Homo sapiens: one gene and its partners. The protein of the gene in region 1 interacts with the protein of each later gene in a pairwise test. Each region holds a gene or a part of one and is shown on either strand. Other genes may lie near its edges.

What was found. Proteins that work in one complex are often made in the same cells at the same time.
Region 2: the proteins of TTC19 (region 1) and RBP1 interact in binary tests that used the Homo sapiens proteins (3 or more experiments, as listed by UniProt).
Region 3: the proteins of TTC19 (region 1) and USP54 interact in binary tests that used the Homo sapiens proteins (3 or more experiments, as listed by UniProt).

What each region holds. Positions count from the first base shown.
Region 1 is NC_000017.11:15,995,525-16,002,835, reverse strand, and holds the start of TTC19 (tetratricopeptide repeat protein 19, mitochondrial isoform 1 precursor), read right to left. Parts: upstream 3,013-7,311; 5' UTR 2,988-3,012; coding exon 2,804-2,987; intron 2,719-2,803; coding exon 2,591-2,718; exon of another isoform or gene 2,454-2,590; intron 922-2,453; coding exon 811-921; intron 44-810; coding exon 5-43; intron 1-4. Other genes in the region: ZSWIM7 (zinc finger SWIM domain-containing protein 7), read left to right, coding at 3,242-3,317. UniProt on the Homo sapiens protein: Required for the preservation of the structural and functional integrity of mitochondrial respiratory complex III by allowing the physiological turnover of the Rieske protein UQCRFS1.
Region 2 is NC_000003.12:139,516,913-139,522,747, reverse strand, and holds the end of RBP1 (retinol-binding protein 1), read left to right. Parts: intron 1-4,225; coding exon 4,226-4,327; intron 4,328-5,067; coding exon 5,068-5,121; 3' UTR 5,122-5,310; downstream 5,311-5,835. UniProt on the Homo sapiens protein: Cytoplasmic retinol-binding protein. Accepts retinol from the transport protein STRA6, and thereby contributes to retinol uptake, storage and retinoid homeostasis.
Region 3 is NC_000010.11:73,581,318-73,588,347, reverse strand, and holds part of USP54 (ubiquitin carboxyl-terminal hydrolase 54), read left to right. Parts: intron 1-7,030.

The DNA of each region.
Region 1 (7,311 bases):
TTACATTTTCAAGCTGACCCCGTATAAATGCTAAGTTGGCCATCTGAAAGCAAATTACAAATTGTTTTTCAGTTTAGAATACTGTGTTCCTACTTATTTCAAAACTTTAAAATTCCCTTTTGCTTTCACCCTCAAAATTTAAAAAATAGTTGAAAATGAAAAGCACATCACCAATTAATCTGCAAGAAGAAGCACAGGACAGCAATCATGTGAGAATTAAATACTTGCACATACTTTGTTGTTAACAAACCAAATCTAGGTCCACTCATCATTAAAAAAACATGCTAATGATACTGGTTTTTTTTGGTCTGGAATTGAGAGGTCTTATGTCACCCCAAGGGTAAAAAAACTGAAGCTGTGGCCGGGCGTGGTGGCTCATGCCTGAAATCTCAGCACTTTGGGAGGCCAAGGCAGGTGGATCACCTGAGATCAGGAGTTCGAGACCAGCCTGGCCAATATGGTGAAACCTCGTCTCTACTACAATACAAAATTTAGCCAGGCATAGTGATGCATGCCTGTAATCCAGCTACTCGGGAGGGTGAGGCAAAAGAATCGTCTGAACTCATGAGGCGGAGGCTGCAGTGAGCCAAGATTGTGCCACTGCACTGCAGCCTGGGCAACAGAGTGAGGCTCCATCTCAAAAAAACAAAACAAAACAAAAAATGAAACTGAAGCCAAAAGAAAACTCAGTAAAAAGAAAAGGAGTTTTAGAACATCGTGAAAGTCAGGAATATAAATCAGAAGAACTAACTACCCTTCCCTCCCATCCAACCTTCCTCATCAGTGGTTCAGACTGGTTATAAGAGTTACCAAATCATAAGTGTAAGTGATGGCCTTCTTGTTATCAGTCTGATAGGCGAGACGAAGAGCGTCATGCAAAATTAACTCAGCCTCTTCTGGCTCATCTTTCATAATGCTCAACTGAAAAGGGAAGACAAAATAATAGAAAATGAAACATATAGTAGATGCATATGCTAAGAGACAGAAGTGTATGCAACTGTACATCCCAACTGATAGAAGGAAGCTAACTCATTCATCAGACATTTACTGAATTCCTACTATGTACAAAGCATTGTCTACAGAGATGACAGGGAGGTCAGCCTCCCTTGCAGCTAGGTGTGGCCATCTGATGAAGTTTTGGCCAAGAGACACAGGCAGAAGGAATGTGATCTTACAACATATTTTATAAGGAAGCTGCTTGTCCTCCATCCTCTTTCTAATTTCTTGCAGGCTGGAGGTGACCATATAGGACAAGTAAGCTTAATTACAACTAATGATAAGAGCTATAAAGATGACAGAAAGGAATGATAAGGGGTCTCCTCTAAATAGGACTTAGGGAAGCCTTCCAAGGAAGTGACAGCTAAACTGAGGTAGTAAGGATGAGAATGAGTCAACCAAATAAGGACCTGGGGAGAACAATGACTCAAACAGAGGGTAGAGAATGAGTGAAGTCCCTACAAGCTGAAGAGAATGGTTTTGAGGAAGAAATGCAAAGAAATAGATGTGAAGGGAGGATGGTGAGCCAGAGGATTACTGCCAAATGGGTGGGCAAGGTATATGCTGGTTTAGATCATGTGGGGTGTTGCAAGCCAAGGCAAGGAGTTTGTATTTTATCATAAATGCAGTGGGTAGCCATTCAGAGCTTTCTGACAAGGAGATGACATAATCCAATTTACTCTTTTTTTTTTTGGTCGCTTTGGTTTCTGCATGGAGAATAGATTGCAAGAGGCCAGGAGGCCAGGAAAGACTACTGGAGCATAGTTGGTGGCAATGATGGTTTGCACTAGGGTGACAGCAAGGGAGATAGACAAAAGGGGAAAGATTTGAGAAATATTTTGCATTTGTTGGCAACAGGACTTGTTGCTGGACTGTAAGTGTATTGGAAGGCAATGGTAAGGTACCACAAGTTTTAAGAATGACTATGAGGTTTTTAGGCTGAAAAACTGATGGTAGTAAAGAGATGGCGAAAGCGTATGTTGAGGAGGCATTAAAGATCGTTTAGTTTTGGGCATGTTAAATCTGAGAGGTAGGTATGGTCCTAAAGTGCAAATGGCATGTCAGTAGCACACTACAGAATGGAAATACAAATTTGGACGTTGTTGGCATCGAGTAGGTATTTAGCTCAATGGAAGAGATGAGATAACTTGGGAAAAGAGGAGGAAAAAAAAATAGAAAAGGATGTGGAGAAAAGGAAGAATTCAGGAGGAGAACCGAACCGCATAACCAACACTAAGTTGCCATTTTCAGGCCGCTATATACGTGCGAAATTATGTCATTTCAGATAGGCTGGTTAATTGATAAAACCACTACAAAACGTTCCCGATATTTCGTTTGCATAAAGCGTGATGCCTAGGGCGCCATCTCCATTTGCACTTGACACTGCAGAGGTTTTACTGCAGGCCTTAGAGTCGGAAAAGCCTGGATGGATTCCAATCCCCTCTCGGATGACCCACCTCATTCTCGGCAATTTTACCCGCGGAGCCTCCATCCACTCTTCGGCGAGGCGGAGAGAGTAATGCGCAGCAACGCCAAGACCCCGCTCACAAAGGCTACCGCGCTCGGCCGGGCGCAGGGCCCGGAGCCGCCTCACCTTGGCTCGCTTCAGCAGCTGGATGATCTCTGCCTCGGCCTCGTCCGCCCCGTCCTCGGCAGCGGCCCCGTCGGCTCCCTGCTGCTCCTCCTCCTCTGCCGCAGCGGGCCTCGAGAACCAGGCGAGCGCTGCGGGAAGGGGCTCTGAGGTCATCGGGCCCGGCCCGCGCCCCTGTCCCCGCCCGGCCGGCCCCGCCCGGCCCGCGCCCCTCACCTGCCAGCAGCGGCAGCAGGCCTGGGCCCCGGCCGTGCGGCGCGACTCGGGATGGCGGCACCTGCACCTCGGGCCCCGGACCTCCTGCCAGCCCCGGGAGCAGGCGCGCGGAGCAGCCCCGGCACCGCCGCCCCGCGGCCCGCAGGAAGCCTCGGCCCAGGCTCCAGCTCAGGAGCCGGAACATGCTCCCGCCGCGTCCTCTGCGCACTGCAGGCCAGACGCGCTCCTGGCCCCCGACCACGCGCCGAGCGCCCTCCGGATTGGCCGGGCCCTGACGACTGAGCAGGACATCCCTGCGTCCGCACGCGCGATGACGCGCCCCGACGTCACTCCGTCTCGCCCTGCCCCGGCGGGGGGTCAGGATCCTCCACAGGTAGGCGCAGTCAGCTGGAGCGTCGCGGCGGTCCGCCGGTCGTGGAGGGCGTGTCCTGCGGCGCGATGGCCGTAGTGTTGCCGGCGGTTGTGGAGGAGCTCCTGAGCGAGATGGCGGCGGCGGTGCAGGAGAGCGCGCGAAGTACGGGACCGAGGTCGTGTGTGGCTGCGCCATGGGCGCGGGCGGGGCATCCGGGCACCGCCGGGCCGGGAGGCAGGAGGCGGGGTGTCCGGGCCTGGCCCTGCCTTTTTTCCATGTGGTTCTCTAAACCTCTTGTTCGTAAAAAGACAAAAAAACAAAACAACAAAAAAGCGAAATTGGAACAAGTAAAAGTCAAATCGATTCAGCAAATATTTACGGTACAGCGCAGTTGCAGGAGCCCCTCCGTCGGAGCGAGTAGGCCAGTGGGGACCGAAGTGCTGAGAGCTGGCCGGGTCGCTGGGAGGGGTCCCCGCCCGGGGGTGGAAGGGACGGGAGCCTACAGTGAGTGATAGAAACGTGGAGTTCTTGATTATTTTACACGAAATTTTGAATTATTAAACTTCTTTTTCTCAAATTCTGATGTTAACATTAAAGTTAATGCTTCCATACACTTTAAAAAGTAGGCCCAGCGCAGTGGCTCACTCCCGTAATCCCAGCACTTTGGGAGGCCGAGGCAGTTGGATTACCTAAGGTCAGGAGTTCGAGACCAGCCTGGCCAACATGGTGAAACTTCGTCTCTACTAAAAATACAAAAAATTAGCTGGGCGTGGTGGCGGGCGCCTGTAATTCCAGCTACTCAGGAGGCTGAGGCAGGAGAATCGCTTGAACCCGGGAGGCGGAGGTTGCCGTGAGCCGAGATCGCGCCATTGCACTCCAGCCTGGGCAACAAGAGCGAAATTCCATCTCAAAAAAAAAAAAAAAAGCATTTTAAGAGCCACAAAACCTAAATGCATATGCAATCGTTGGAGTAAATCTGGGTATTGTGAAAGCACCATTTTTTTTCTGACCAGCAGAGGGTACTCTTTGGCTATGCTCACCAAAATCACTTGAGAAGGGTTGATCTCAAGATGTGTTCAGAGTATGCTAGGATAAGATCAAATCAAATTTGATATACTCAAAATGCATTGACTAATGAACTACTCTTAGGATGTAAAAATGGCCACCTTATAAATAACAGCCATATCAGGCCCCCAAACTGCCATCGCTTATTCAACTTGGATGGCTTTTGTTTTAAAAGTACTGTACTGCATTTTGAAAGGGTTTATCTTGAGTTACTGTTTTTAAGGAACTGAGAAAAATAAGCCAACTTTGTTTCCTCATCTCAGTCAAAATTAAGGAGACTTAAGTATATGTGCTTGAAAGATTAGTGCAGCCAAGTATTCAAACATACTTGTTTCCAAAAAGGATGGGAAAAAAGCCAACTGATGTTAGCTTATACAATTGTTCTGGGCTCTCAGATTTGATGGCCTGAGGGTTTGGAATGCTGTCACTTTAAACAATAATCGCCAGAACTGTTCTGTGTCTGAATAGGTTAATCCATACACTGACAGTAGTTTGGGTTGGTTTGTTTTTTTTTTTTAGACAGAGTCTTGCTCTGTCTCCCAGGCTGGAGTGCAATGGGCGATCTCAGCTCAGTGCAACCTCCGCTTCCCAAGTTCAAGTGATTCTCCTGCCTCAGCCTCCCAAGTAGCTGTGACTACAGGCGCATGCCACCACACCCGGCTAATTTGTGTATTTTTAGAAGAGACGGGGTTTCACCATATTGGCCAGGCTGGTCTCAAACTCCTGACCTTGTGATACGGACACCTCAGCCTCCCAAAATGCTGGGATTACAGGCGTGAGCCACCGTGCCCAGCCAGTTTTGGGTTTTTTCCCTCCAACAAGAAGGTTCACAAGACACATTGACAGTCCTGAAGGGGGCATAATCATTGCCCCTGACACCCATGGTTCAGACACAGGAACCAATGCTGTTGATTCATGTTTATTTTCAGAAGCCCTGTTTTCTGTCTTTTTCAAAATCTTTTTTCTATTAATATATAGTTATGCACCCTTCCTAACCCCCATTCTTCAGTGGTAATTTTTTTAGATCAAGATTCCAAGTTTTATTTGTATGATGATATATAAACTAGTCACAGTGGAACCATGTAGGAAGCTATGATTACTTTTTGTTTTCTTTGTAACTTTTGGATTTCCCTGGAGTTACAACTATCTTGGTTTTGTTTATGTGCTTATTTAGTTTTTTACATATTTATTCCTACTTTAACCTCACATCCTTTACTAGTGTTCTCAATCTCCCCTCAAGATGTTCAGATGAACGAAGTATGTTATCAGTTTCACCTTCCTGAAGACATCTCTAGAGCCTTCGGACTTGCTTAATATGGACTGGCTGATCTCTCGGCTGTTTGCTGAGATCTCTCTTAACCATTATTATCTGGGAATTCTCTGTATCTTTGTTGGGTCCTATGTTTAGTATATCCTACAGTTTTCTTTTTCTCAGTTTACTACCTCTTTTTTTTTTTTTTGAGACAGTCTGTCACCCAGGCTGATGTGCAATAGCATGATCAAAGCTCACTGTAGCTTTGACCTCCTAGGCTCAGATGATCCTCCCACCTCAGCCTCCCAAGTGAGTATCTGGGACTGCAGGCACACAATACCACAGCTGGCTAGTTTTTTGTATTTTTTGTAGAGACAAGGTCTCACTATGTTGCCTAGGCTGGACTCGAAGTCTGGAGCTCAAGAGGTCCACCTGCCTTGGCTTCCCAAAGTGCCAGGATTACAGGCATGAGCCACCGCACCCGGCCCATGTAAAATTTTTTTTTTTTTTTTCGAGACAAGGTCTTGCTCTGTCACCCAGGCTGGAGTGCAGTGGCACAATCATAGGTCACTGCTCCCTCAACCTCCCAGGCTCAAGAGATCCTCTTGTCTCAGCCTCCTGAGTAACTGGTACCACAGGTGTGCACCACCATGCCCAGCTAGTTTTTGTATTGTTTGTAGAGACGGGGTTTCACTGTGTTGCCCAGGCTTACTACCTTATATTATGGCACACAGACTCTGCCAGCTTCCTGAAGAAGGGGGCATGAGATGTACCTTTTGAGGCTTTCTTTTCTATTTTTTGAGACCGGGTCTCACTCTGTTCCCCAGGCTAGAGTACAGTTGCGCAATCACACCTCATGCCCAGCTGATTATTTTATTTTCTGTAGAGACGGGTCTTCCTTTGTTGCCCAGGCTACTCTGGAACTCCTGGGCTCAGGCGATCCTTCTGCCTTGGCCTCCCAAAGTGCTGGGATTATAGTTGTGAGCCCCCACACCGGCCCCTGTTTGAGGCTTATGTCTGAAAAAGTTGTGGGGTTTTTTTGTTTTTTTGGGTTTTTTTTGAGACGGAGTTTCGCTCTTGTTGCCCAGGCTGGAGTGCAATGGTGCAATCTCTGCTCACCGCACCCTCTGCCTCCTGGGTTCAAGGGATTCTCCTGCCTCAGTCTCTCGAGTAGCTGGGATTACAGGCATGCGCCACCATGCCCGGCTAATAGTTTTTCTATTTTTAGTAGAGATACTAAATGTTAGTCAGGCTGACCATCGCGCCCGGCTGAAAAAGTTCTTTTTCTGCCCTTACACTTAAGTGATTGTTTGTCTAGGTATTGAATTATTTGTTGGAAATAATATTTCTTCAGACATCTGAAAACATTTTTCCACTACATCTTAGCTTCTAGTGTTACTCCTGATTTTTGTATGTGACCTTTTTTTTCTCTGGAAGTTTGAATTATGTTTTCTTCATAACCAGTGTTCTGAATCTTCTGATAAAGTTTTTTTTTTTTCACTTCACAGTGTGGGCACACAGTGGGCCCTTTCAAGCTAGAAATTCATGTCCTTCAGCTGTGGGGAATTTTGAATTATTTGATTGATGAATTCCCTCCATCTGTTTTCTCTGTTCTTTCCGGTATTTCTGTAATTAAGTTACTGGATGTCCTCTGTTGTCCTTCTGGTTGACTTACTGTGGCTTCTGTGTTGCTTTTATATTTTCTCTACTTCCTGGGAACTTTCTTGAACTTTATCTTCCAGATTTTCTGTTGAATTTCTGCTGTCTTTTTTTTTTTTTTTTTTTTTTAAGAGACAGGGTCTTGCCGGCCACAGTGGCTCATGCCTGTAATCCCAGCAC
Region 2 (5,835 bases), on another chromosome or scaffold:
ATTTCTCCCTCATCACCTCCTACCCCTTTCATCCTTTTTCACTCTGCCTAGAATGCCCCTCCCATTTTTAGAAACTCCTTTGAGGCCATGACAGCCTGGGCACTTCTCTGTGGGGACCTCTACAGGCAGAAATCTTTAAGACCTCTTTCTGACTCCCAGCACCCATACCCCCACAATGGTTGGAATGAACTTAAGGGTGTTCCTCCAGGAGTCTGCTCGGAGTCTTAGCACAATGTCCATGTGTTTTTCTGCAGCCCCCAATGATTTTAGCCACCATCTCGTGGGCACCTGGCAGGTGCCCTGCCCTAGACTGGGAAACAAGTGGGCACCAAGTCATGCAAAGCCCGTGCTCCAGCCCAGATTCTTTCTCTCATTTACTAGGTGACCAGAGAAAGTCATGGAACCTCTCTGAGCTCAGCCACCCCTCTACATCCAATACAGACAAGAATAATCTCTGCTTTGTCCAACTCCTAGCACTTTAGGAGGCCAAGGCAGGTGGATCACCTGAGGTCAAAGAAAATAATCTCTGCTTTGTCCAGTATCAGAGTCAACAGAAGCTTGGGGTTAAGAAAGGCTTTCTGGGAGACTGATGCAGTATGCATGTGATAGGGATCCTTCCCTTTAAGAAGCCTGGTTTGTAGGGCTCTCAGAAAGGCTCCTCTACACCCCAACAGACTTCTGCTCTCTCTATCCCTCAATCTGTCAAGCTGCCTGAAATTCTGCCATCTGTCATTCTTTTGGGCTAAGGTATTATTATTGTTTATATCCAGATGGCCCCTGTTAAAAGATGCCAGCGATCTGGAAATGGTAACACAGTAGCCCCAGGAGCAAAAGCATGCTTTACCATTAATAAACATCTCTCTCATGGTCATTCTCTGACCCTGGTGTTGGAAGGTAAATAGGTGTGAGCTTTCTGGAGATAAAGTTGGCAATACTCATCAAAAGCTTTACAAATATGCACACTCTTTGATGCAACAATTCCTCCTCTGGAAATTTCTTCTAAGGGAACAATGTGTTCAAAACTATGTATACAAAGAAGTCTTATTTATAGTAGCACAGAATTATAAATAAATAACTTAAATGTCCAAAATAGGTAATTGGCTAAATAACAGTATGTATGTACAATCAAATACTATCAGGGACTGTTTTGTGGGCCTGTGACAAAGGCAGTCCATCAGGGCCCCAGGCTCAGAAAGCCCCTCACTTGGTTTAATGCTCTGCTGTCACCAGCTTAAAAATCTTAATGATTTTGAGCAAAGAATCCCTCATTTTCATTTTGTGGTGGACCACACACACACTATGTAGCTACTTCCTAGAATATTACGTAGCAATTAAAATAATGCTTATGGAGAATATTTGTTGAAATGGGAAGTTGCTTCAATTAAATGAAGAAATGAGGATATGAAACCATAAATGATGCAATCCTAATTTTGTATAAAACAGAAACATGTAGATAGATAGATAGATATAAAAAAAAAAGAGTGGATGGAAATTTACCATACATTGTAACATATACAATGTTAGAGCAATTATCTCTTTTTTTTTTTTTTTTAAGACGGAATTTTGCTCTTGTTGTCCAGGCTGGAATGCGATGACATTATCTCAGCTCACTGCAACCTCCACCTCCCGGGTTCAAGCAATTCTCCTGCCTTAGCCTCCCAAGTAGCTGGAATTACAGGCATGCACCACCACGCCCAGCTAATTTTGTATTTTCAGTAAAGAAGTAGAGACGGGGTTTTACCATGTTGATCAGGCTGGTCTCGAACTCCTGACCCCAGGTGATCCACCTGCCTCAGCCTCCTAAAGTGCTAGGATTACAGGTATGAGCCACCACGCCTGGCCTAGAGTAATCATCTCTAAAGAAACAAAACTACATGTATCATTTTTATTACCATTTTCTTCTTCGGTGTTTTTTTTTTTAATTTTCCAATACAAAGACTATGACTATACTTCCTGACTAATATTTCCAGAAGAGGCAAAAATGTATGTCATAGCTGAAAACAAGCAATTGTCTCTTGTGCCTCTGAGTGAATCCGGAACCCTTCATATGCACAGTAGCCTTCTGGATAAACACATGAAGAGAAGATCAGTTGATGAGGAAACCAAGTGTTCTTATGAGCTTCTTGAAGCTGAGGACTGATTTCTGGGTCCCCACTTCCCTCTACAGGCCTGGGATGGAAGGAGCACGGATAAGTGAATGGGTGTCCTGTCTTATTTATGGCATGAGGTCATGAGTAGTCTTTACCCATGACATGTCTCACCACACATTAACCACACTATGTTTTGCGTTCTCTCTAGCCTGGGACTAGACTGTGCCCTGAGTGAATTTCTGGATCAGAGAGAGGATCTGCCCCCCAAGTCCTTTTATGCCCCATTTCTCTCTGGAGCAGAGAGCAGACTTACTCCTATGCAAAGCTGGGGGAGCACATGTGGCTCCACCTGCCTCCCTCGTGCATGTGTCGCATTGCAGGCTTCACCCCAACAGCAGGGGGCAGTAGTGATCAGCAGGCCCAGGTGGGAGGCCTGGGGTGGGGAGGTCCTCCTGCAGGGAGTGGCCCCACTAACGCCACACCCATCTCCCATAAGTCTCCTCTCCCAAATCCTTTATTCGGCTGTTGCTGACTGTCCTGACTCAGCTGAGCATGGCAAGGAACACAAGGATCCTAGAACCTTAGCTCTCTACATTCAAGGCCTGAGTTAATGTCCCCATGTGACAGATGAGAGCACAGGGGCCCTGAAAAGGGAAGGATTTGCTGAGAGCCACACAGTGAGCAAGGGGCAAACAGAGTGCTGAGCACTACTGTGGGGAGGCCAGGCTCATAACACAGAACTGCCCCATATGGGACGGCTATTCAAAAGAAGGTGGGCAGCCCCAAATATGAGTGATGCCCACTGCACTTTCTGTGTGCCCACATCTGCGACATGTGTCCCAGTCTAGGGCACACTCATGGCTATGCTGGGATGACAGGACCACCTTGCCTCTGAAGTCCAACACTTTTTTCAGCCCCGTGTTGCTAGGTGGGCCTTTTCTGCTCCACTAAGACTGAAATCTCCCCAGGACACAGGCTGGGCCTCCTCCTCCTGCCTGTCTTCCCTTCAGCATGCCCAGCACATGGCAGGGCTCACAGTGCTCAGGGAAGATGTGGGGGCTCAAATGTGGGGTGTAGAGGGTGTCACAGTGCTCATCTGTGCTCTGCCAAGCCCAGGCTGGGCTGTGGGATTTTCCTCGCCTTCCTCCTCAGTTCCCTGGTGCCCTCCTGATGAGCTCCTAAGTGTACTTCCCGCTGTCCCACCTCAGGCCTTCACCGGGTGGTGGGCTACTGGGAGCTCTTCTCCACAGCGCCTCCTTTCCTCTCCTTCAGCTCCATTCTTCTCTCCTTAGAGCCCAGCCCTAGTGAATCCCACTCCCTGGACTCTCACCTGGGCTCCCACAGCCTCTGGCCTATAACCCTGGTGACCATGAACGCTTCAAGAAGCAATTTAGTCCATTGGGGTGGGGACCTTCAGAGCCCCACAGATCTGTGTTCAGACCTGGTTCTTCTACTGAACAACATGGGTGAACTTGGCAAGTCCCTTAAGCTGATCTGTGAAAAGGAGATGCTAATCCCTGCTCACGTGGATAGGCATGAGGCTTCAGAGACAGCACAGAGAGTGCCTGGCAGAGCAGGTAGGCAGCTAACAGCTGCCATTTGTACCTTCACTGGGTTATTTATATCTAAGGTCATTCTCCCTGTGAGATGAAGAGCGCTTTGAGGGCAGGGGTGGGGTCTTTTTGGTATCCCAGGACTTAGCATAGGTTGAAACAATGAATGGATGAATGAAGTGTCTGGGGATGGTCAGGGTACACTCTGAGAAGTCTGCCCCTCACCATAAGATTCTGGAAAACATCCTTCACCCCTCACACCCAGCTGTGCTCAGCCCTCAGGCCCTCCTCTCCACCTTAGCCCCATTCTCAGTGCTTGCAATGACAGCCCCACTCCAATGACTTTTTCCCTCCTAATTACCCTTTTAAATAAAATTTATGAAGGTTTTCATAAATTTTAAAACTGATTTACACACTTTAATAAAAGCATGTGATGGACAGGGAGTATTAGGCTGCAGATTTTCTACAATGAAATTGACGTGAGCACATCCCAGATTATCAAGTTTGGGAGCTGCCCCCTCCCCCAGCCTCCAGGAGCTCCCCGCTTGCTCAGGATTGACAAATGTGTCTCTTTCTTGGCAGACAACAGTGAGCTGGGACGGAGACAAGCTCCAGTGTGTGCAGAAGGGTGAGAAGGAGGGGCGTGGCTGGACCCAGTGGATCGAGGGTGATGAGCTGCACCTGGTAGGTTCCTGGGCTGGGTCAGGCCGGGTCCCCAGAGGCCCTGGTCATTGTTGAGGTCCAGATGGACCTTGGAAAAAGGCACCATGGATGGGCCTTGGTTCTGTTCTAAAGCTTCTCTTCCAAGGGCCTGGAAAAGATGCCTGGGTGACTTTAAAAACCAAGCAATGTATTTTCAAGGTCTAGGCTGACCCAATCATCTAATCAGAGGGAAGAGGTGAGGAGTTATATCCATTAAGCATCAGCAATGAGCTAAGCCCTTTTGCATTCTATAACTCTATTCTCTCAGAATAGGAATATGGCTCTTATTTTAGAGATGAGGACCTGGGGGCTCTGAAAGATTAGATTACATGTCCAAATTGCACAACTAGAAAGTGACAGAACAAACATTTGCTCCCAAATGATGTATATATTCACCATGCCAAATTGTATAGGCCAAAGCCAAGAAGGATTCTCTAAGCTTCTCTAAGATATGATCTCAATCTGGGTCAGCGGGAGGTGATTCGGGAGGGGAAGCGTCAAGGGGTCCTGTTGGTCAGCTCTGAGCCACATCCATTCCTCTCAGCCAGCTCTGTCTGTAGGGTGCTGCAGAGCACTCCACTATACAGTTTAACTGTCTTTCCAAACAATTGGTTACTTAAACCAACTCTTGGGGAAAAATAACAGCCAATGAGTATTTTTAGAGTTCTTGCCGTAAGTGTGACTCTGCTCTGGCCAATGACCAACATCTGCTTTTGTTTCAGGAGATGAGAGTGGAAGGTGTGGTCTGCAAGCAAGTATTCAAGAAGGTGCAGTGAGGCCCAGGCAGACAACCTTGTCCCAAGGAATCAGCAGGATGTGTGGGCCAGGATCCCCCTCTTTGCACAGCATGAGGCAAAAATGTCCAGCCACCCCCAGGCATCTGTTAGCAGAGTCTGTCTCTTGGCTTTGTCACTTTTCCTTTTCTTAAAACAAAGCCATGCCAATAAAGTGATCTGTGTTCAAAACGTCTGTTTGGGGGAAGTTTCACTGCCCACTGTGCTCACTTTTTCTCCAGGGCTTCTGAGGCCAGCTTCTCCTAGTGCCACCCATGGGCAGAGTGGATAAATTCAGCCACATGTCCTGAAATTGCACCGTGTTTCTCTCCAGAGGCACAGGCTTGGGTCTAGAATGGGAGGTGGGAGAGTGGCCTGACATTCAATCATTTGTGTATCAAGTAGCTACCATGTTATGTATCTAATTGTGGCCAAAGTATAGTGAGTGCCACAAAAGCAGGAGAAGATACCTTCCACCCTAGAGATCCAACCAACAGAGAATGTCTATATAACTGCACAGTACACCAAGGAGATGCTTCATCATTATTTGTGAATGAAATGGAACTGGACAGAATTTTAAGCCCAAAGCATAAAATTACTTAAACATAAGTAATTACCTATTGGATTTAATTTCAGAGATGTCATGAGATGTCACCACCCTCAGACCATCCACCCCATCTACGGGCTGGTATCAGCCCTTTCTTTTCACTGTTGTAG
Region 3 (7,030 bases), on another chromosome or scaffold:
GGATGGAGGCTGAGACAGGAGAATTGCTTGAGTCTGCGAGGCGGAGGTTGCGGTGAGCCAAGATCACGCCACTGTACTCCAGCCTGGGTGACTGCGAGACTCCGTCTCAAAAAACAAAAACAAAAACAAAAAACAACAACAACAAAGGATACATTTAAGAAAAAAAAAAGGATACACTTTTCCCCATTTTTTATATGGCCTTGGGATTTATGCTATCAATTATAGTTTAATCTCCTGAAATTTTTATAGTAGTTATATGTGTGTGTGTGTTTGCCTGTAAGAGAAAGAGAGATGGGGGAGAGATAATGCATATAGAGGATGGTCAGTCATCATAATCACAGTTACTCTTTATGGAATTCCTGTTTTGTACCTGGCCCTAAGTATTCTGCGTACATTATTTTGTTGCATCCTTTCAGCAGATCACATTTATTATAGGTAGTAAATGGCCTGAATGTGATGGAGCTAGGATTGGAATGTAGATTCATCTTATTCTTCATCATCATTATCCTCACCATAATCATCATCAAAACATTTATTCCACACTTACCACATATTAGGCACTGGGCTAATTATACGTATCTACATTATTTTATTTAATTCTTATAACAATCCTATGAGATAGATGTTATTATTAGTCACATTTTTTCTGATGAAGTACCTAAGAGTTAGTTCAATAACTTGGTCAATATGCCACAGCTGTTAGATGGTGGAGCTGAGACCTGTTCTATTCCACTAACTCTGTGTCCCCAAGTTGTATAATTCACATAATGTTCTCTAGGAATGGGACCCTTTGGATCTCCACTAAAAGCATGTTACCTCCCGAGGTTCTGCAATATTGTTGGCCCTGCAGAGGGTGCACTTTTTGTTTTTTTTGAGATGGAGTCTCGCTCTGTTGCCCAGGCTGGAGTGCAGTGGCGCAGTCTCGGCTCACTGCAAGCTCCGCCTCCCAGGTTCACGCCATTCTCCTGCCTCATCCTCCCGAGTAGCTGGGACCACAGGTGCTCGCCACCACACCCGGCTAATTTTTTTGTGTTTTTTAGTAGAGACGGGGTTTCACCGTGTTAGCCAGGATGGTCTCGATCTCCTGACCTTGTGATCTACTTGCCTCAGCCTCCCAAAGTGCTGGGATTACAGGAGTGAGCCACTGCACCCGGCCTGCAGAGGGTATACTTTTAACCACTATGTTCTTTCTACTACCATGCTGCTTCCTTTAGAAGTCAGTAAATTATACAACTTTAGATCTTTATAAGGAAGGGCTAAGTAGCCTGCAGCTGTCATTTCTTAGTTCTTATAATTTGTCAATTATAACAAAGTGAAACGTGCCTTTTTGTTTTCTTTCCAACTACTTTTTAACAAATTTTAGACAAATTTGTTATACATGACAGTTATCTAAGTTCTTGTGCAGGAAAAATAAGACTTTTTGTCCTTTATCAGCATACAATTCTTCTGTTGTACATGATGTAATAGTTTGAAGCTGCCAAAGTCCAGCCCTCAGGAAATTGTTTGAGTTGAGTAACTATTCGCTGGAGAGTTTAAGATAACCAGCTCATAAATCAACAAATAGCTTGGCCCTTTTTATGGTTGTAGATGCTTATCTCTTTCTATTTTCAAGCTTGAATCAGAAGCAAATATTGTTTCCATTTATATAGTCACTATTAGAAAAAGTTGTCAGCAGTATCTCAAGCTAGATAAGGCCATTTTGTGAGTTCTTTTCTTTAAGGAGAGTCAGAATTTATCAGGATGTTAGAATTGGTTGTTCTAGGCTAGGTACCTTCAAACAAAAAGTTTTCTCTTTCAATGAAACTGTCAGTGATTCAATGCCTATTATATTCAACCTCTGTGTGGAATTAGAAAGATGCCCTTAAGACAAAATGTAGTCCACGTACCCAAATAACTGTAACATGAGGGAGAATGTGAGTATTGTAATCCAAACCCCACCATGCACTGAGAGCACAGAGGAGGATGAAATAAATTGGGAGATTGGAAAGGTGAGAGGGTGAGAGAATGATCTGGGAAGGCTTTTCCTTGTAGGATAGTTAAGATTTTCAGCAAGAATAAATGGAGAGGAAAGGCATTCCAGAGAGAGGCAATATTAGAGTCAAGACAATGAGAAAGTAAAGGACAGGGTATATTTGTTATAAAGAAAGGAGTCTAGTGTACTTGGAGTGGAGGATGAGTGAGAGGCACATAATGGATGATCAATGAAATGTTTGATCAGTGAGTGAATGAGTAGATGAAGCTGGAAATGGTGGTAAGGTCCGGTGATTCTCAAACTTTACGCTGGTGCCAGACATATTTAATTCTATCTTATAATTAGGAATTAATTTTTTTTTTCTTTGAGCTGGAGTCTTGCTCTGTCACCAGGCTAGAGTGCAGTGGTGCGATCTTGGCTCACTGCAACCTCTGCCTCCCGGGTTCAAGATTCTCCTGCCTCAGCCTCCTGGGACTACAGGCACGCGCCACCACGCCCAGCTAATTTTTGTATTTTTAGTAGAGACGGGGTTTCACCATGTTGGCCAGGATGATCTTGATCTCTTGACCTCGTGATCTGCCCACCTCAGCCTCCTAAAATGCTGGGATTACAGGTGTGAGCCACTGTGCCTGGCCAGGAATTAATTTTATTGGCAGAATATGTGAATATCAAAAATATGCAGCATAAAAATCACAATCATGAACATGATTCAGTGATATGATTTGGATGTTTGTTCCCTCAAATCTAATGCTGAAATGTGATCCCCAATGTTGGGGCCTAGTGGAAGGTATTAGATCATGGGGGTGGATCCCTCATGAATAGCTCAGTGATGAGTGAGTTCTCACTCAGTTAATTCACACAAGATCTGGTTGTTTAAGAGAGCCTGAGACCTCTCCCTTGTCTCTCTCGCCATGTGACACCTGGGCTTCCCTTTGCGGTCTGTCATGATCGTAAGCTCCCTGAGGCCTTGCCAGAAGCTGAGCAGATGCTGGTGCCATGCTTCCCATACACAGTGCAGAACCATTAGCTGATTAACTTCTTTTCTTTATAAATTACCCAGCCTTGGGTATTTCTTTATAGCAGTGCAAACATGGCTTAACACTGTCAGTTAGGAAAAAAGGTGTTAAAATAGTTCCAATTGACTGCTTTGATTTTTTTCCCTCTTAATTTTGCTACTATTTGTTCAAGTTTCTGTAGTGCTAGCAGTAGACTAAGTAGGTAAGAAAAAATTATGGTAGAGAAACTTATGAAAAATCCATCTATTAATTTTCTTTCCTGTGAATTAGAAAAATACCATTGTTCTTTTCCAGCCAAAAGAATATCTCCCTCTAGGAGCCATTAAATATTTTGAAAAGGAGTGACATGGTGTGGAATGTGTTTTAGGAGTCAGGTGGTAGTGACATGTAGGATTAGAGGACTGGCAATGAGTCAGTAATGTGGTGCAGTGGTCCAGATGTGGTGAGGATCTGAACCTTAGTAGCAGCAGCAGTGAAAATAGAATGAAAGGAAATAGAGATCCACACCAGGCCCTCTGTTTCTAAATAGGAAATAGTTACCAATTATTAACCAGCTTTCATATTGTTAGGATATTACGGGTCTCAATGGTCGGTTATCTCTGGTCTCAAGTCCTTTCACTCTATTTTTAGGGAAAATGTGTTTAAACCCCTATTTTAAGGAAATGATAGTTTATAGATTATTTATAAATTATAGTTAATTTAGAAAATAGAAAAAAGGAAAAAAATCCATAATTTCATCATCCTAACAAGACCGCTATCATTTTACATTTACTTACCCCGATGTTGCTGAGTTTTAAACTTCTCTGTTAATTCATTCTGCGCACATTTAGCTCTGAGAAACAGGTTTCTGAACTAATAAAACACCCAATAATTGCCATACTGTGATATTAAACAGTAAACCAAGAGGTTTCACATATAACCCTCAGTGGATTGTAGGATCACAAACTACGTCAACGTCTCTTCTTTTTTTTTTGAGACAAAGTCTCACTCCATTGCCAGGCTGGAGTGCAGTGGCGTGATCTTGGCTCACTGCAACCTCCGACTCCCTGGTTCAAGCAATTCTCCTGCCTCAGCCTCCCGAGTAGCTGGGATTACAGGCACATGCCACCACGCCCGGCTAATTTTTGTATTTTTAGTACAGATGGGGTTTCACTATGTTGGCCAGACTGGTCTCGAGCTCCTGACCTCGTGATCTGTCCGCCTCGGCCTCCCAAAGTGTTGGCATTACAGGCGTGAGCCACTGTGCCCGTTCACATCTCTTCTTTTCCTATAAATCAATCTTGGTCCATCTACCTTTAGACATATAAATATTTATTTCCCAAATGCCTCAATCCCTTTTGGGCCCAAAGTTCCATCTTCTTCAGTGAATTATTTGCATAATTTAAAATGTTTTTTATTTTGAATTTATAGAAAAGTTGGAAAAATAGTTACCTCTAATGATACCATCTTATATAACCATAATACATTTATCAGAACCAGGAATTAATAGTATTGGTATAACACTATTAACTAAAGAGCTTTCCTGAATTTCACCAGTTTGCCTACCATTATTATTTTTCCTTTTTTATTTTCAGTTTTTTTAAATTGTAATTTATTTTTTTTTTATTTTTAAAGACAGGGTCTTGCTTTGTCACCCTGGCTGGAGTGCAGTGGCACAGTCATAGCTCACTACAGGCTTGAATTTCCAGGCTCAAAAAGTCCTCCTGCCTCACCCTTCTGAGTAGCTGGGACTACAGGCAAGCATTAGCCTGGCTAATTAAAAAAAATTTTTTTTGGCCAGGTGCAGTGGCTCACGCCTGTAATCCCAGCACTTTGGGAGGCTGAGGCGGGCGGATCACCCGAGGTCAGCAGTTTGAGACCAGCCTGGCCAACATAGTGAAACCCCATCTTTACTGAAAATACAAAAATTAGCTGGGCGTGGTGGCAGGCGCCTGTAATCCCAGCTACTCCAGAGGCTGAGGCAGGAGGATTGCTTGAACCCAGGTGACTGAGGTTGCAGTAAGCCAAGATCGCGCCATTTTACTCCAGCCTGGGTGACAAGTGAGAAACTTTGTTTCAAAAAAAAATTTTCTTTGTTTTGTAGAGACAGGGTTTCGCCATCTTGCACAAGCTGCATTGTTCTTTTTCTGTTCCAGGATCCTATCTGGAATCTCACATTGCATTTTAGGTGTTTTTCTTCCTTACTCTTCTGTATTCTGTAAAAGTTTCTTAGTCTTTCTTTGTCTTTTATAACCTTGACATTTTTGTAGAGTATTGATCAATATCAGTTTGAGGGCTATTTGTCAAATATTCCTTAATTTGGATTTGTCTGATATTTTTCTGATGATTGGACTGAGATTATGGTTTAGGCAAGAATACCACAGAAATAATTGTGTCCTTTTCAGTGCATCATATCATGGCATTCATGATGTCAATATGTATTATTACTGGTTATTTTGACCTTGATCACTTGGTTAAGGTAGTTTCTGCTGGGTTTCTCCATTGTGAAACTACTATATTTTCCTTTGTAGTTAATAAATGCCTTAGTGGAGATACTTTGATACTGTCATTTTTATTAATGTCATGGAGTTCTCTACACATGCAATTAATAGTGTCTCCTTAAAGACTTTATTGAACTTTAGTTACTGTGAAGTCAATTAGCTTAAAGAGTCCATCTCCTTGGATGGGCGCAGTGGTTCACGCCTGTGCCACCGCATGGTTCACAACTTTGGGAGGCCGAGGTGGGTGGATCACTTGAGGCCAGGAGTTCAAGACCAGCCTGGCCAACATGGCGAAACTCTGTCTCTACTAAAAGTACAAAAATAGCCAGGCATGGTGGCGCATGCCTGTAATCCCAGCTACTCGGGAGGCTGAGGTAGGAGAATTGCTTGAACCCGGGAGGTGGAGGTGGCTGTTGCAGTGAGCCAAGATCGCATCACTGCACTCCAGCCTGGGTGACAGAGCGAGACTCTGTCTCAAAAAAAAAAAAAAGTCCTTCTCCTTAGAAACTTCCCACACTTTACACCTGGTTTTATCAAAGGGTTCCCAGGCTTTGCACGAACAAATTCTATCTAGTCTTCATTGATTTCAGTTCCATTCTAGCTCTGCTCATAATGAATCTCTTATGCTAATAACCTGTAGCTCTCTGGGCCTCATTTACCCCTCTGTCTCTTAGGGCGCCAGGCTCCTCCTGGCCCAGTGTCCTTCCAGGCCTCATCTCCCTTTATGCACAAGCCAGTTCCTTTGAATGACTGCTTTGGGTTTTTTCCGAAACAGGCTGAGAGAAGCTGACTTTGTTGGTGAAGAATACAGTGGGGGATAATTAGGGTGGCTGCAGCTGGAGCCTGGTTTATTACTTTGGCCTGAGAAAAATGGTAGCACATTAAGCTGTACTGTGTATACTTGTGAAAGAATCATTCTCTGTATTTCACTAATACAGAGAAAGTGTTTTTTTCTAAAGGTCACCAGCTTCTAGAGGTATGTCTTTAATTCTGGCAACCTTAATCTGTAATGATCTTTTCAATTTAGCCCTGTTGACTGTGGAGTTACTTGCTGTGAGCACAAGAATCCAAAATCCAAATGTGGACCAAATATTATATTTAGATCTATTTAGTTCAAACAAATTTTATACAGTGAATAACATTAGATGTTTCTTTGATTAATAAAATACAAATTTATTAGTATTACTGAATTCAAAGTAGCTTTTTGAATTATGTATTTTCTCAAGTGACATATACTATAAAAGCCCCATTTATGTAATGTGGATGGGGCAGACTTAGATTCTCTGACACTTGAAGCTTATGCAATTCAGAGGGCCTCCTTTAAGGAAAATATTTTTTGAAACAGAAAATGAGATATTGGGCCTTGAGAATCTGTGCAAGAGAAAGAGTCCTGAAGCTTAAGTTTCAGTGGCTTGGTAAATCTGCCTCTGGATGTGAGGCACTGCAAAAAGGTTGAGACCCACTGTTTTCCATCATTTCATACATGGAAAGGTTTTTGGCTTACCCACAGGAGGCTAGTGTTTTCAGATTGGGAACAGTGGGACATATAACTTAGTAACTGT